2 separate regions of the Homo sapiens genome follow, and region 1 is linked to region 2. Evidence: fine-mapped expression QTL. Tissue or cell type: whole blood. Region 2 holds a variant in brackets; the other region holds the start of a gene. All regions are shown on one strand. Distances are from middle to middle.

Region 1 (8,153 bases), 53 kb before region 2:
AGGTTCAACTTTCTTTCTTGGTATGCATTTTACTCACAGGAATATTAACACATCTTGATACACCAAATATTGCCCTGCCTGCTGATGAGGACTGCTCCAGCTAGCTTCCTGCCATTGCAATTCTCTAGGAAGGAGGCAGACATAGCCTTAACAGTTAGGCCTGCCTTCCAAATTCAGGTTTCCTCAAGCATTCTCTGACCAAGACCTATCTAGCTAACTAAGGTGGACTCATGAATTTCTGCAGTTCTATAGGGATTTATCCTGAGATTTAATACCAGTAATGTTTTGGTAAGAAGCCCTCACCCACAAACTTGGCTGGGAGTGGAAGGAAACAAGAACATTAAACTGCCAACTGTAGACTCAGAAGCATCAGTCCCCTTGTTAATCCAAAATATCTGAGACAGGTCTCAGTCAATTTAGAAAATTTATTTTGCCAAGGTTAAGGATGCACTCGTGACTCAGGAAGTCTGGATGACAGGTGCCCAAGGTGGTTGGGGGTACAGCTTGCTTTTATACATTTTAGGAAGGCATGACATATCAATCAATATTTGTAAGATGTACATTGGTCCATCCAGTAAGGCAGGGACTTCCTGGTTAGAAGTAGATAAGAGACAAAAGGTTGCATTCTTTTGAGTCCTTGATCAGCCTTCCACTGAATACACAATTTAGTCTGGCTCAGTGAATCTGCATTTTTACATAAACAATAGGGCAGAGGGAGCAATCAGATATGCATCTGTCTCAGGTGAGCCTCAGAGTGATGACTGAGTTCTGCCTGTCCTTTATCCACCAGGAATTTCCTGTGGGCAAATTGTGAGGGAGGTATGTAGCTTATTATCTTTGTAGCTATATTATTTAGGAATAAAATGGGAGGTAGGTTTGCCTCAGGCAGTTCCCAGCTGGACTTTTCTCTTGGCTTGATGACTTTGGGGTCCCGAGATTTATTTTCCTTTCACACCCTCATACAGTGAATTCTAGTCTTTTGCTTATCTGAGCCGGCTGGGATGTGGGGGTGAGAATTCAAAGACAAGTTTGGCCACTTCCTATCAAACTTCAGAGAGAAGTAGCTCCTAGACTGCCCTCCTTATGGATGTGGAGGTAAGGCTTGTTGTCTTCAGCTTTAGAGCTTTAGACAAAGTTTTGAGACAAATAGAAATATCCTATTCTAATTTGGTTACTCACTTTAGTTAAAACCTTTAAAACATGATCCTGCCATGTAAAAAAGACAGTTCTTTAATGATAATAACTACCATTATCGACTATTTGGTACAAGGTGACAGTAGCTTTATATACTAAATGTATTAAATGTTCACAACACTCTTATGAAATAGGGAGTTTCATACCCATCTCAGTAATAAAACCTGAAACCCAGAGGTCATGTAGCCAGTGGCAGAGTTGGAATTTGAACCCAGACCTGTCTGATTTCCAAACTCAATCTGCATACAAAGATGAGTGGTGTGGTATTGACTAGTGTGGTTGTCCCCTACCTATGAGCTACAGAATTGAGGTAGGGGTGTTCCCGGACCAAACTGAGGGTTGGGCTGCTATTTTTTGTGGCCCAATAATGAGATGTAGATGAACTGGGGAGGAAGAGAGTTTTTATTTCTGCAACCGATTACAGGGAGAAGGCCTGGAAATTATCATCAGACCAACTTAAAATTACAGTTTTCCAGAGCTTATATACCTTCTAAGCTATATGTTTACTTGTAAGTGTGCATTTATCTAAAGACATAAGTGATTAACTTCTTTTAATCTATAACTAAGGTCTGAGTACTGAAGACCATCCTCTGAAGCCTCAATAAATTTACTTAATCTACATGGGTTTAGGTGCTGGGGTGATTACCCTTATCTTATCCCCTGCTAAATCACAGAGGTTTGGAGAGTTCTTTCAGACCTCCAATAAACTTGTTTGTGGAGGCCTGGGGAGTTTCTTCGGACCTCCAATAAAACTTGTTTAATCCTAAATGGGTCCTGTTAAGAATTTCTTCATTAATTTGTCATGCTTCAAGGCCCAGGAAAGGCCTAGGCAAAACCCTTGGTGGGTTTCTGTTACATCTCAGCCTTTGTATAAGGGCACTGGCTTTTAATATTTAACTTAACCACTCAGTCAGCACTGAAACATTGTTATGGAGGCCTGCGTTAGTGAGACCTGGTCTGCCACAGGGGTGCAGTTATTACAAGAGGTTGAAATATCCTAAGTCCATCAAACATTGCCTGTGGATCCAAAAAATAATCTATATACTACTATTTCTCCTATATATATCAATTCAATTCAACGATGAGTTATTTGTGTAAGGCATTGTTCTAGGTGCTGGGGATACTCCAGGATACAAAACAAACAAAAATCCCCGTCTTCATGGAAATACAAATTTTCATTAAAAGTGTACTGAAATTATATTTTTTGTCATCATGCATTTTATCAATTAAATGAAACTAAACATATAACTTATCAAGCGACAGCTCAGGAATAATTTTGCTATTTAAAATAGCAAGGGATTTTCTATTTATTTGCCATAAAAATGTCCATTTTGTTATAATGGATATATCTGGAAACCACTGATACTATTTAACTCTGAGGAATTTAGTTATCACAAGAACATGATCCATGAGGGAGGAGTTTATTTGCAGTGAAGTCCAACCTGTTAATGACAATATTTGGATCATAAAGGAAGTATTGGGCAATCTCCTGGGGTAATCCCACTCATCCATCCCACAGCTCAGTGCCAATTATAATGACTACCTAAGTAAATTAGGATTGCAATTTTATTGACAATTCTGATGAGGAATCTCAGGAGCACGATTTTCGGCAGAGACGCAGATTACTTCATCTCTTGTTTACCTTTTGACTCTGGGACTCTCTGAGGTTCCTTCTAAAGCTGTTACAGAAGAGGGAACTGTTTGTCCAATCAGGGAGCAAAGTCACATTTGACCTCGAATTTCAGCCCTTAGGATCCTCAGGGAATAAACACTCATGCACTTAGTGCTAGTCAAAGACTGCATGATTATTTAACTAAAAAAATTCACATTCCAAGAAGTTAACTGTCAGTAAGATAGGTTTTGGTCTTTCTCATCACATCTTTCCCTTCACAGGCCACCAGTGCCAGTTCGAATTCCCGTCCCCAGCGGCAACCCTTCCGGGTCCAGGCACAGGTACGCGGTGAGAAATATTATTCTCTCTAATAGCAAACGAGGAAAACGAAGGGGGAAGGAGATGGGCCTGGGATACAAAGTTCTGGCACTGCTCTTCGCACCTCACCTCGCTGTTTCTTCCCTCCTAGTCTTCAAGTCCCTTGTCTCCCCGGTCTCACTGCCGCTCTTCCCTCGCTCCCTTCCCGCCGCCTCACTCAAAAGCTACGAACCAGTCGCGGCCGTCAGACTACATTGCCCACAATGCCACGCGCTGGCCAGTCTCGCGTGGGGTTTTCCCTCAGCTGCTGTTATAATTAATGTTAATCAAACCCACATTTCTAGGAAGGAGCCGAGTTATTATCTGCCTCTCCGATAGGATGCCTCTTTGTCTTCACCTGCCATTCCCGCTGTTTCGTGAAGAATCCTCTGTAAAGGGAAATTTGTTCAGGCGACTGCTGTGGCCACCCTCTGCCTCCTCCGGCCTCTGCCCCTGGGAGGTCCCCGGGGGCCTGGGAGTGTCATTGGCGTATGACCGCAACCCTTGCCGCTGCCGCTGACATCGCTACCATGGTCTCCGGCAGCAGCGGCCTCGCCGCCGCCCGTCTCCTGTCGCGCAGCTTCCTCCGTGAGTCCAGCCAGTACTGTCTTCCTGGCGCCCGCGGGTTATTGGCCCCGCCGGACCCAACCTCCTGGCCCAGGCCGCGGCTGGGCCCTCAGGGCTGGACCTCGGCGGGGGCCTGGGAGCCGCTTGGGATTCCGGCTTCGAGTCGGGGACCCCTACGGTGGAAGGAGCTTTGCTGGATACGTGGGGCGGGGGGCATGACTTAGGCCGCTGGCAGATGGAGATATTGGGTGGCTGAGCCAGGATTCGGGTCCGGGAGCCCTGCAAATTTGGGAGCTTGCTCTCGGCCCCGCGGTGACAAATGACAGGATGGGGGTGGCGTCTAGACTGGCCTTATTTGGAGTTGGGGATGAAGAGGTCCAAGGTGAACTTGGTGGGGAAGGTAAGGGTCTGGGTTGAGAGGTAGAGGAAGAGTGTCTCAGTAGGAAGTTGGGGGATGAGGCTGTCCCTAGTACGGAAAGGTCCTGCACTTCGAATTCCCCCTCTGCAGGATTGTATGTCAGGGAAAGATGGTTTCTGCACACGGAGTGGGGTCGGCATAGCCGCATAGACTACTAGAAGCTTATGGTTGGCTGGGACCTAAACCAGCTTATTTGCAGTGTCTCCACCAGGCGATTTGTGGACACATCCGTTCCCGAAAACTTAGTACCCAAGGTTGCTAGTCTTTGAGACACGCTGACTATGGAAAATTCTTGCCATATTCAAAGTCTCTGTGCTTGTCAGGTAGGTTATAGTAGAAAGAAACTTTGGAATCAGCCACATCAGGGTTTGAAGTCTGGCTAGTCCCTTTTCAGTCTGTGTAATAACCCTGGACACTTAATCTGTTTTTCAGTGTTTCCAATCACATGAAAATATTAACACATTTTAAGGGGCCTGAAGCACCATCACTTGTAAGGTGGACCATTATTTTGTTTACCACTAACAATGAAGAACGATTGCTTATTAAAACTGTGACACACCAGTGGTTGTCACATGTATCCTGGTTTTTTAAAAAGTGAAAAAAAATGTGCATTTTAGCAATGATGATGTACAGGATGATCTGGGTTCACTGCAGAATAAGTGGAGCAATTTATATAAAGCATCTCGTATGTAACAAACACTCAAAGTTAGTTTTCTTTTTCCGCTTTGCTCTTAATTCTGCTTGTACTGAATATTTTATGAGACTTAATTCCTTTCTTGAGAAGATTACATTCTGAAAGTGTACATTGATGAGTGTGCACTCAATAGCTAACACTTAGTTGCCAATCACTTGAGGACAAAGGTCTGGCTAGATAACGTTAGCAAGTATGAAATGGTTTGTTTGGTAAAGCTTTCTGGAGATTCTTGAGAGTGTTGTAGGCAGAAGGACAAAAAGAATTCATTATACCCAGTAATCACTCAGGTCAATAAAGTTTGAGCACCAAGAATGAAGTATATTGGATATGGTTTTAAACCAGCTTAATTTGAATAGATAGTGGGTTAGAATGTAGAAGATCAGATGTGCAGCACAGCCACTGTGGTGGGAAACCCTAGGAAGAAGTTGCCCACCTGTGTCTTTCGCTTCTGTGGTCTTGCTAGTCTGAGGTTCTGAAAGATCCTAGCCTCAGGTAGGTCTGCTGTCTAGAAAAATCTAGAGAATAAAGGAAGAGTGTCTAAAAGATCTAGTTCCTTACTCCACCCTTAGCAGTCCTCTCAATCCTCTTCCCACAGAACTGGAAGTGTGTTCTTCCTAGACTCCCAGGATCATTTGGCCCTAGAGTGACCATCTGGTTTAGTTTTGTTACTGGAGTGGGCTTGAATTATTCAAGTCATGTGATTAACTTGTTATTACGGGTCTGAGATTTAAACCAAGATGTATTCTATATTAAGAGGGGTTACAGACAACAATGCTTAATGTGTAAACACCTCTAAATTCACAAAACTCTAACTCCTCTTTCCCATGCCACATTTCCGAGCCCATTTTCACTCCCACTAGAAAAATAGCAGCTACAACATCACCTTGCAAACTTTTTTTTTAAAAAGGGACCAGAAATTATTTAGTCTGTGAAGCTAATAGAGCTACAGATGTTAGGGAATTTTGTTCCCTCTGTTAAGTTTCAACTTATGGTACATTACTTGCTGAAGGTCATAGTGTTGCAATATTGATTAGAGTTAACAGCCACAGAAAAAACTCAAGTGAACACTGGTAGATGCCTTCCGGAGCCCTGTTTTATAGCTTATGAAAAAAGGAAAAGTGGCCTGGCACGGTGGCTCATGCCTGTAATCCCAGCACTTTGGGAGGCTGAGGCGGGTAGATCACAAGGTCAGGAGTTCAAGACCAGCCTGGCCAAGATGGTGAAACCCCGTCTCTACTAAAAATACAAAAATTAGCCAGGTGTGGTGGCAGGCGCCTGTAATCCCAGCTACTCAGGAGGCTAAGGCAGGAGAATTGCTTGAACCCGGGAGGTGGAGCTTGCAGTGAGCTGAGATCGTGCCACTGTACTCCAGCCTGGGCAACAGAGTGAGACTCTGTCTCAGAAAAAGAGAAAAAAGGAAAAGGATCCAGTTGAAGTGGAGAGAGAAAATACAATGAAAAATGAGGAAGAGTTCTTCCATGAGAAAGTTTAAGGATTTCATAAGCACCCTTGAAGTTGAAATAGTGAAGTTTTAAGAGAAGCATAAAGTAATGCAAGGTCTTTTTAAAACTGGTCAGTAGTTTCTGTAACTTGAATCTTTTAGAATAAATAGGGAATAAAAGCCAGTATTTTTGAACCTCAGAATTTTGGTATTTTAATGCCAGAAAGTAAACCTTAAAACCCAACTGGTCCCATACCTTTGTACGGCAGATGAGGAAATCCCAAAAGTTTCCAGTGAGTATCAGAAGTGATACTAGCACCCAGGTCTTCTGACTCTGCAGTATCCTTTCCGCCAGCATGTACCATGTGATAACTTAAGCTTTTTTCGAAGCTCTGATTTTTTTTTGGCAGTCTTAGTGATGTGTTGAGAAGGTGACTATCCTGCTCAAAGGTGTTGCCTTCCTTTTCCCCGTGTTTGCCAAGTGCGTAGGCCTGTTTTTCGAATCAGAGATGCATTTAAAGTGTAGTTTGGAAAATGAGATCCTCAACAGTGATGTTGTGGATATTAGCATCTGTTGCCATTGCATGTAATAACCAAATCTTTATTTCAGAAATACAAAATAGCCTTGATTCAGATGTACCAGTGTAGCCATGAGAAAGTGATTTGATTTTCTGACATCAAATTTGTTTCTCCATAGAAATGTAATTGGGAATATTAAAAATAATTTAAGTACAGGGCAACAATTTCATTTCATCAGGGGACTGGCATACCATAGACCCACATTTTTTTTTTTTTTTTTTGTTTTGAGACGGAGTCTTGCTCTGTCGCCCAGGCTGGAGTGCAGTGGCGTGATCTCTGCTCACTGCAAGCTCCGCCTCCCAGGTTCAAGCCGTTCTCCTGCCTCAGCCTCCCCAGTAGCTGGGACTACAGGCACCCGCCACCACACCTGGCTAATTTTTTTGTATTTTTAGTAGAGATGGGGTTTCACTGTGTTAGCCAGGATGGTCTCGATCTCCTGACATTGTGATCCGCCCACCTCAGCCTCCCAAAGTGCTGGGATTACAGGCGTGATAGACCCACATTTTTTTACATTATAACATTTCTTACATTAGGTTGTGTCTTATTACTGATATATATGTTTTTTTTGAGACAGAGTTTTGCTCTTATTGCTCAGGCTGGAGTGCAATGGCACAATCTCAGCTCACCGCATCCTCTGCCTCCTGGGCTCAAGCCATTCTCCTGCCTCAGCCTCCCGACTAGCTGGGATTACAGGCATGTGCCACCATGTCCGGCTAATTTTGTATTTTTAGTAGAGACGGGGTTTCTCCATGTTGGTCAGGCTGGTCTCAAACTCCTGACCTCAGGTGATCCGCCCGCCTCATTTTTTCTTTTTTACCAGTAATTAATAGTACTTCTTAAAAATCAATGGTGTTTTATATTTGATGAAATATGGTACTTACAGCTTATTAAACTTCACTCGTAAGTCAATATTAAATGAATATATAATTTAACATTTGAATAGTGGGTTGTTTGGAGTTTAGGGGTAAGTGGCTGCTAGCTACTCTGCTGTATTATAAGGTCCTGTAGGTGTAGACTGCAGTAGCCTGTGTCTTACATATGCATAATACATATGGTTAATAAGTGTACATTTGTTAAATTCATGAGTACGTGCACGAATAAATGTTTACCAGGGACACAGTTTGAGAGGTGAGTTGAAGGAGTATTGAGTATTTCATGAATAGAGCCTTGGGTTATTGGTTAGGAGCATGGTACTGGTCATACAAGGCCCATGGTTTGAGTCTCTCCTGGGCAGGTGCTCTTTGACCATAGATTGCATCATTCATCCCACCAGCCATTTTATAAATGATGT
Region 2 (8,210 bases):
GAACTGTGAGTCAATTAAACCTATTTTCTTCATAAATTACCAAGTTTCAGGTAGTTCTTAATAGCAGTGTGAGAACAGACTAATACAGAGTTATATACATCCTTATCTGTTTAATATCTATCTCTCCCATAAGCTGTAAGGTTGATGAAAGTAGAGATAAACTGTTTTGTTCACCCGCATTGGCCATGGTGGACTCTGCCTGGCACACAGTATGTGCATATTGAATATCTAATGAATAAATGAACAGATACTCCCATGGCACTGAGTGAAATCACATTGCATTATGGTTTAGTTTGCTTTTATTTTGCATGTTTTTACCTTATTATTTTTGTTTTTTTATCATTTGTGTCAGACATAGATAAGTGCTTAAAGACGTAACAATTTAAAAAGTCCTCTTATGCTCTCCCAGTGCTATTGCAGTACACATGTTGTGATTTTGCCAACTATTTGCTCTAAAGTGTCTAGGACCTACTTTGGCATGCATGGTTTATTTTCCACTTTAGTAGCTGAGCTAGGGAAAGAATCTATGAGCTCCTGCTATTCTTGGTATCTTCTTCCCTGTCCTTGTTGGTGAGGAAGCAAGAAATTCACGTTTATTTTGTTGGCAGTTCTAAGAAGCACCTAATACACTGAAGCTGTGATCCTCAGATTATGCACAGGAGACTGCTGGGGAAGCTTCCAACACCTGGGCCTCACACCAGTGCGATTACAGCATGATCTAGGTGGTGGGTCTGCCACTAGGTGTTTTGAATTCTCCCAGGTGATTCTAATGTGCAGCCAGGGATGAGACTATTGTCTTGGAGAAACAAACATGGCTGTGGCATCTTCTGGAGATGCTTTTGTAGAGTCTCTGCTGAAACTCGTCTAATTTTTCTGTTACAAACTCAAGCACAGAAGCTTTGCTCCAGGCTATGATCCATTTTTGTCATACACAAATGTGGAAGGAATAACCCCCCAAAGTCCCTGTGGCTTGCAAAACTTTGAAAGAGAAGTGGGGCCTGGGGTTTCTCCTTTGATTCCCTATACTCTCTAGTCAGCAAAGCAGGCAGGATTAAATGAGGTCTGCAGCCTGTGGGGCCAAGGTGATTTGGAACTTGATTATTTGGGGAGTCAGAATATTTACAATGGAATTGTCACCAGGTAAAAGTGACATTTATCTAGCCTTAGGCCTTTCAAACTGGGATTCTAGGTGGTCGTTCAATTTGCAATCAGAAGGCCTAGGTTTGATTCTCAATATTAATACTTACCATATGTGTGATTCTGGGCAAGTCACTTAACTCTCTGAGCCTCAAAATCTTTATTTGCCAAATGGAAAGAATCGTATATATATCACTAGATTTTCTTGTGAGGATTAAATGAAGAATGTTTGTAAAATGATTGTACTGAGTACATAGCAAATAGTCAACAAATGGTATCTGTTGGTAATAATAAAAGCAAATATAAGCTCTCTGAATACTTTACATGGCTAGGTTGTAGAGTCTGTGACAGTAGGAATAATTTTATTGGTGTTTCTATACTCAACCCCTGCAGTATATCCTAATAACATGTGTGGAACTGAATTGTTTCCTAAAAATTGTTTTGTAATGGATGTAAAAAGTGTTTAGATCAAGTTTCTCCAATTTGCAGCCTGTGGTGGCTTTGAATGCGGCCCAACACAAATTTGTAAATTTTTTAAAAACATTATGAGGTTTTTTTTTTGTGTGTGTGATTTTTTAAAGCTCATCAGCTATCCTTCTGGCCCAGGACAATTCTTCTTCTTCCAATGTGGCCCAGGGAAGCCTTTAAAGATTGGACATCCCTTGTTTAGATGAAGCATTCCTACACATTGGCATAATGTGAATCCAACCAGTCTGTTTTATAAAGTTAGGCAAATCCTTCTAACTAGAAGGTATACCTTAATTTCGCCAGATAGAAGGCAAGTGTGTTGCATATAGGGTTGTCTTCACTAAACAAACTTCCCATGAGTTTCTTGATCACTTCCCATGAGTTTCTTGATCACACAGATGTTTGGAGTCTTTGTGATGACTTTAGTTTTAAGTCTCTGGCCCAGGACAGCCTATGTGTGGCTGAGTAGGGCTCTGATGAGTCAATGATTTTCACCTGGTTGAACATTAAGTCACCTGAGAAGCTTTTAAAACTCCTGATGTCCGGGCTGCTGATTCTTTGAGGATGAGACTCAGATATCGTGTCTAACTGAAAGGTAGGGGCTGCAAATCTGAACATAATGCTGCATTTCTTAGACTCCCTTGTGTTTTGGTTTTACAAATGACCCAGCTTTCTCCTAGCTGATACGCTCATGCAAGATTAGAAGAAGGAAGTGAACACTGTGAGGCAAATATAGTTGTGGAGGTGCTTTAAAAAATTCTATAGCATCTTGTAGCAGAGGGCCTAGTGTCTGGTTTCAGCTTTGTGGGTATTGAGAAGCAAATATTAATACCTAATTTCTGATAACACCAGAAGTAGGCAATTTTGGTGCTAATTGGTGGCTTCTTGATCCCAGTTTCCTGATCACAGCATAGGCAGCAGTTGTCTAGGTGGGCAAGTTCTGCATTGTTCTGAGAGTCATTCCTGGGAGCTCAGCTCAATTATGCTAGTTTTTTTAAATAAGTCACCTAATAATAAATTCTAAGTTCCTTTATACTAAAACTTGCCAGAATGAATTCTGCTGTGTGCCCTGAACCTGGAGTAATCGCTGCTAGAAGTGATTGTAGGTAACAAACATTCAGGGATGGGAAACGGGGGGATTCCATGGGTTAGTTGGGTTTGAAGGCCCCTGGGTTCCAGTAACCGGTACAGGAGGGGCTACTGGTAGATCATGACCAGGAGAAACAAAACTTTGTTACATAAGTTCCAGGGTAATCTGGAAAAAGTGCCAATTGGACTCATGGCTCTCATGGACTGAGTGACAATATAGTTGCAATAGCAATACGTGGACCATGGGGATGTGCTGGCTACTTACAACAGCATTTGAAAACTTAAAAAGACTTGGCATTTCAAATTTTTTATTTTGAGGCTTAGAGAACTAGTGAGTTTCTTCTGCCCTAAAATAATCTCTTATCCCTTGTTGATGCAGAGTTTATATAATCAAAATCATCTGCAGTGTCTGTTGTGTGTGTGTTGGGGGAGGGGGGTATATTAATTACAACACAGGTGGAGCTCACAGCCTCACCAGATCACCTGTGAAAGTTGAGCATTTATGAGAAGGAGTAGGAATCTAAAATTGGGAATTACCACATTTGGGAGGATTTGGAGAACCCTGTATCTCTCAATCCTACTGAGT[C/G]GCCCTTGTACCAGAAGCCTATGTTTCTTATATCTTGGGCTCTGCAAATACCCTCTTTCACCAGGCAGACACATGTCCATGGGATAGGGAAGGTGGCATGGACACAGGGAGGGAGGTGCTTCCATTCTGCTGCTGCCAATTATGGCAGAGGCAGTGTGGTACTGGAACAAGCATTTGTGGTGCGGCTCCCTGATCCCTTGGCTTGCTTTCTGACGTGGCAGATGCTCTCTCGGAGGGTAAGTTCTGATGGGTAGTTTTAAAAGTTGTTCTTGAAATCTCAACCTTGAGCCTGCTCTTTTGGCATTTCTGCCAGCCACCTAATTACACAGAATAATTTTTTTTTCTGTCTCAAGTAGCTAGAGAAGATTCTGTCTTCTGCAACTGAACCCAGATACAGAGGGATAACAAATTAATTCATCACTAGCTTTTAACATTCCAGCTCAGATTACATGATTAAAGTCCTTTAAGGGCCTTAAAGGACCTATTTTCTAGCCCATAGAGAAATAGCTTCTCACAACCATAAGAGGAAGGTGGATAGGTTCTGCTTGAATCCCACCAGGGATAAGTTTTTTAGGGAACTCATTCCATTTTGAACAAATTCCAACTATTAAAGAAATTAGACTTGTCTGAAACCTATTTGTAACTTGAGCCCATTGATTTAAATTCCCTGTTAGCACATTGGTTTAGCTTTCTGCTTAGCTAAAAACTCAAATTCCTCCACCTGATCCTTCTGTAACATGGTTCCCAGATTCCTTAATGCTGCATACAACTGGTTAAAAGACAGAGAGAAAGAGGTGAGGAGGAGAGAAGAGTTAGTTATTCTTGGTGGGGATTGTGCAAGTTGTCTGCATGTGCAGAATGTGCTGGTATAAATCTTTATGCAGAAAAGCAAAGCCAGAAGAGGGCTGGTTGAAGTATGTAATTAAAAACCTTCTTATTTAAAAACAGTCCTGGTACCAGCTCTTGTTCATTTCTATGTTTCCAGCCTCCCTGGAACATTTTCTTCTCACGATAATTTATCCTTCAACTACTTGTTCATCTTTGTGTGTAAATGAATAATTATTGGGTCATATACTATGTTGATAGCATGAGTTTTATTTTATCCAATGAGTTGTCATCCATACTGAAAAAGAGACAGGAAAGGGGAATAAAAATTAAAAGCAAATCATAAGAGGGGATTAAACCACATTCCGCTGTTATTTTTATTTCTCAAACTACCACTATCATCAAAAATCGTTGCTTATGTGTCTATTGTCTGTCTTCCTCCATCAGAATGTAAATTCCAAGAAGGCAAATACTTTGTTTTAATCCTTATTGTATCCTTGAAGCCTGGTCCGTTTTGTCCTCTGTTTAAACAGTGTAGATTCTAAATATATATATAAATTTAGTGGATGAATGAATGTTTGCAGACACAATGACAAAAAGGAAAGAAGGAGGTAAAGGAGCAGAAGGGAGATTGTGTTAGTTTTCTACTACGGCAATAACAAATTACCACAAATGTAGCCACTTAAAACAACACATATTATCTCACAGTTTGCATGGGTCAGGAATCTGGGCACTGCTTGACTAGTCCCTCTGCCAGGGTCTCCCCAGACTGTGTTCTCATCTGGAGGCTCATCTGAGAAAATATCCACTTCTGAGCTCACTCAGATTGTTGGCAGGATTCATTTCCTTGCAGTGTGACTGAAGGCCTCAGCTTCTTAACCTGTTGTTGAGTGGAGGCTATTCTCTGCCACATGGTCCTGCCACAGGCAAGTCACACATGGCTGTTTGCGTATTCTAGTAGGCTAAGATGGTCTTATATAGTGTAACATAATTAAAGTGACATCCTGTCACCTTGGCAGTATTTTATTGGTGAGAAGCAAGGCACAGATTCTGCCCCAACTCGAGGGGATTGTAGAAGGGTGGGACTCGCCAGGGGCACCTTAGGGCATATCTGCCATAGGAATCCAGGAAGGAATATAAATGAACAGGGAGTAAGAGATGTGGCATTTTGTTTTTCAAGCATTTCTTCTTATGAAATTTACCCTCCATTTCAAAATCAGAATATCCTACAGCTCACAGATTCAGGTTAGGAAGCCCCCAGTCCTAGGCAGTTTAGAAATTCTCAAGGTCTGGAATTGGTGGCTTGCTTAATGATTCACATTGTTTGGAATGTCTCTCTGGATTTTAGTTTCTCTCTGGTGAAGAAGAAATTTCAAGGAGAGAGTTAGATGGGACTTGGGTCCCTTACTACTTAAGAAGTAGAAGAGTCTTTGTTAACAAGATGGGTAAAAAAATTTTTCTTTTTTCAAGATGGGTAAAATTTTAATCTGAGAACTTGGAGTATCCAGCAGGCTTGCCTGCAAAACCTGTGTGTGTATATAGCTAAAAGAGTAGATTATATATACATATTCGAGAATCACAAGAAAAGCAACAGAACACATTGACTATGCTTGCATCAGAGGAACCTGTGAAAGACCTAACATATTCAATTGAATCTAAGACATCATCAATTGTTAGGCATGCTATCATTTATATGCCACTAAGGAATAAAAAGCGAAGTGCTGGAAATTTAACAATGACAAGTCACTGGTTAGAAGACACATCACTAGTTTAGAGATATTAGTACAAAAAATTTGTGTCTTAGAATTGAAGACTACGATTGGTTTTTCAGAGCAAACGTATCTAGAATTGGTATTGCCAAAAGGAAGCCCTGATTCTCAGCTAAGTTGAGGTCTAGAAGACCTAGAAATATGACACTTATTACTCTGCTGTCACTAGAAAAATAAAACATTAGAGATGGAAATGTCTTTAGGAGTCATTTCACCCAGCCTCCCTCCTAAGGAAGGGACAGATGGTCTTCCAGCCTCTGCCTAAATATTCTGAGAGTTGAGGAACTCACTTCCTTACACAATACCCTGTTTCATTTTGGGGTGTATTTTGTCAGGTAATGGGATCCCAGTTGAAACCTAAACCATGCTTATATAGATTTGACTGTGTATGTAAATATATTAATGGTTAATAGAGTAGGTGTCACCTGTGGAATGATAAAATGAGAGTCCTGTAGACCCTCACCTTGAGGGGAGACAACTTTAGGCTGACAAGATGTGCCAACGACAGTGCCTCAATTTATTCATTCTTTCTTTAATTCAGTGAGAGTCCCTACCCATGTGCCAAGGTCTAAATCAATGAGAGACACAAGTTCTCAGTGTTCATTCCTCACAGCTCCCTGCTCCTCCACCTCCAGTGTAGAAAACACAGAAGCAGTCCTCTAATTGGACAGGTTTGGCTTGGGTGCCTGCATGTGGTCCAGTCGGCCACCCCCAGTGTGGCTGTGACATAGTACAGACACTGTCACTGGTCTTTCCCTCCTGTGGGACCATCACACAACAGGTGTTTTGGGTCCCTCTGTACACTACATTGCTGGGTGTCAGCTGGAGATGGGGATGCACCATGACACAGTGCTTTGCCTTGGACCTCAAAGAACCAGATTGAGAGTGAGTGCAGAGGAGGTGAAAAATAATTATGTATCAGATTATTTTTATTAATCACAGCAGAAACACCCCTGATGAATTGTCTCCAAATAGTTGGGGATTATTATAGTAGAGTAGGACCTTCCTTGAGGTTTCCATCACAGAAATCTGAGGGACAGAGCCAGTTACACATTATTTACCAAAGCCTAATGAACCCTGCTTTGACCACCAGTGAAGAAATCTATGGAGAAACACAATTATATTTTTACCAGATGTACTCATGATAAACTGTACCATTACAGTGGTTCTTGTCATTAATAAAAATGAACATTTTATTTAAACTACTGGTAATACAGTAATAAAGTGCTAATGTGTTTTATGTATTCATATTTGCACATAATCTCATTCTTTGGCATAATTAATGAGAAAATATTCAAACTCTTTTTTAAAAATTATACTTTAAGTTCTGGTGCAGAACGTGCAGGTTTGTTACATAGGTATACACATGCCATGGTGGTTTGCTGCATTCATCAACCTGTCATCTACATTAGGTATTTCTCCTAATGCTATCCCTCCCCTAGTCCCCACCTCCGACAGGTCCTGGTGAGTGATGTTCCCCTCCCTGTGTCCGTGTGTTCTCATTGTTCATCTCCCACTTATGAGTGAGAACATGCAGTATTTGGTTTTCTGTTCTTGTGTTAGTTTGCTGAGAATGATGGTTTCTAGCGTCATCCATGTCCCTGCAAAGGACAAAAACTCATCCTTTTTTATGGCTGGATAGTATTCCATGGTGTATATGTGCCGCATTTTCTTTATCTAGTCTATCATTGATGGGCATTTGGGTTGGTTCCAAGTCTTTGCTACTGTGAACAGTGCCGCAATAAACATAAGTGTGTATGTGTCTTCATAGTAGAATGATATATAATCCTTTGAGTATATACCCAGTAATGGGATTGCTGGGTCAAATGGTATTTCTGGTTCTAGATCCTTGAGGAATTGCCACACTGTCTTCCAGAATGGTTGAACTAATTAACACTCCCACCAACAGTGTAAAAGCGTTCCTATTTCTCCACATCCTCTCCAGCATATGTTGTTTCCTGACTTTAATCATCGCCATTCTAACTGGCATGAGATAGTATCACATTGTGGCTTTGATTTGCATTTTTCTGATGAACAGTGATGATGAGCTTTTTTCATATGTCTGTTGGCTGCATAAATGTCTTCTTTTGAGAAGTGTCTGTTTATATCCTTTGCTCACTTTTTGATGGGGTTGTTTTTTTTCTTGTAAATTTGTTTAGATCCTTGTAGATTCCGGATATTAGCCCTTTGTCAGATGGATAGATTGCAAAATTTTTCTCTCATTCTGTAGGTTGCCTGTTCACTCTGATAGTTTCTTTTGCTGTGCAGAAGCTCTTTAGTTTAATTAGATCCCATTTGTCAATTTGGCTTTTGTTGCCATTGCTTTTGGTGTTTTA

The links. PIP is the estimated chance that this variant, and not a neighbour inherited with it, causes the effect.
Region 1: it holds the start of SUCLG1, and the variant in region 2 is fine-mapped to the expression of SUCLG1 in whole blood (TOPMed, PIP above 0.99).

What each region holds. Positions count from the first base shown.
Region 1 is chr2:84,454,771-84,462,923 of GRCh38, reverse strand. SUCLG1 (succinate-CoA ligase GDP/ADP-forming subunit alpha) reads left to right here and starts at 3,644. Exons shown (of 9, transcript NM_003849.4): 1 at 3,644-3,751. The coding sequence starts at 3,655. It also overlaps a transcript of DNAH6 not described here. RefSeq lists a silencer at 3,098-3,287 and an enhancer at 3,468-3,607.
Region 2 is chr2:84,401,973-84,410,182 of GRCh38, reverse strand. No RefSeq gene overlaps it. Among named protein-coding and RNA genes, the nearest start is that of SUCLG1, 53 kb to the left of the region's middle. The variant C/G (reference allele first, on the strand shown) is at 3,281.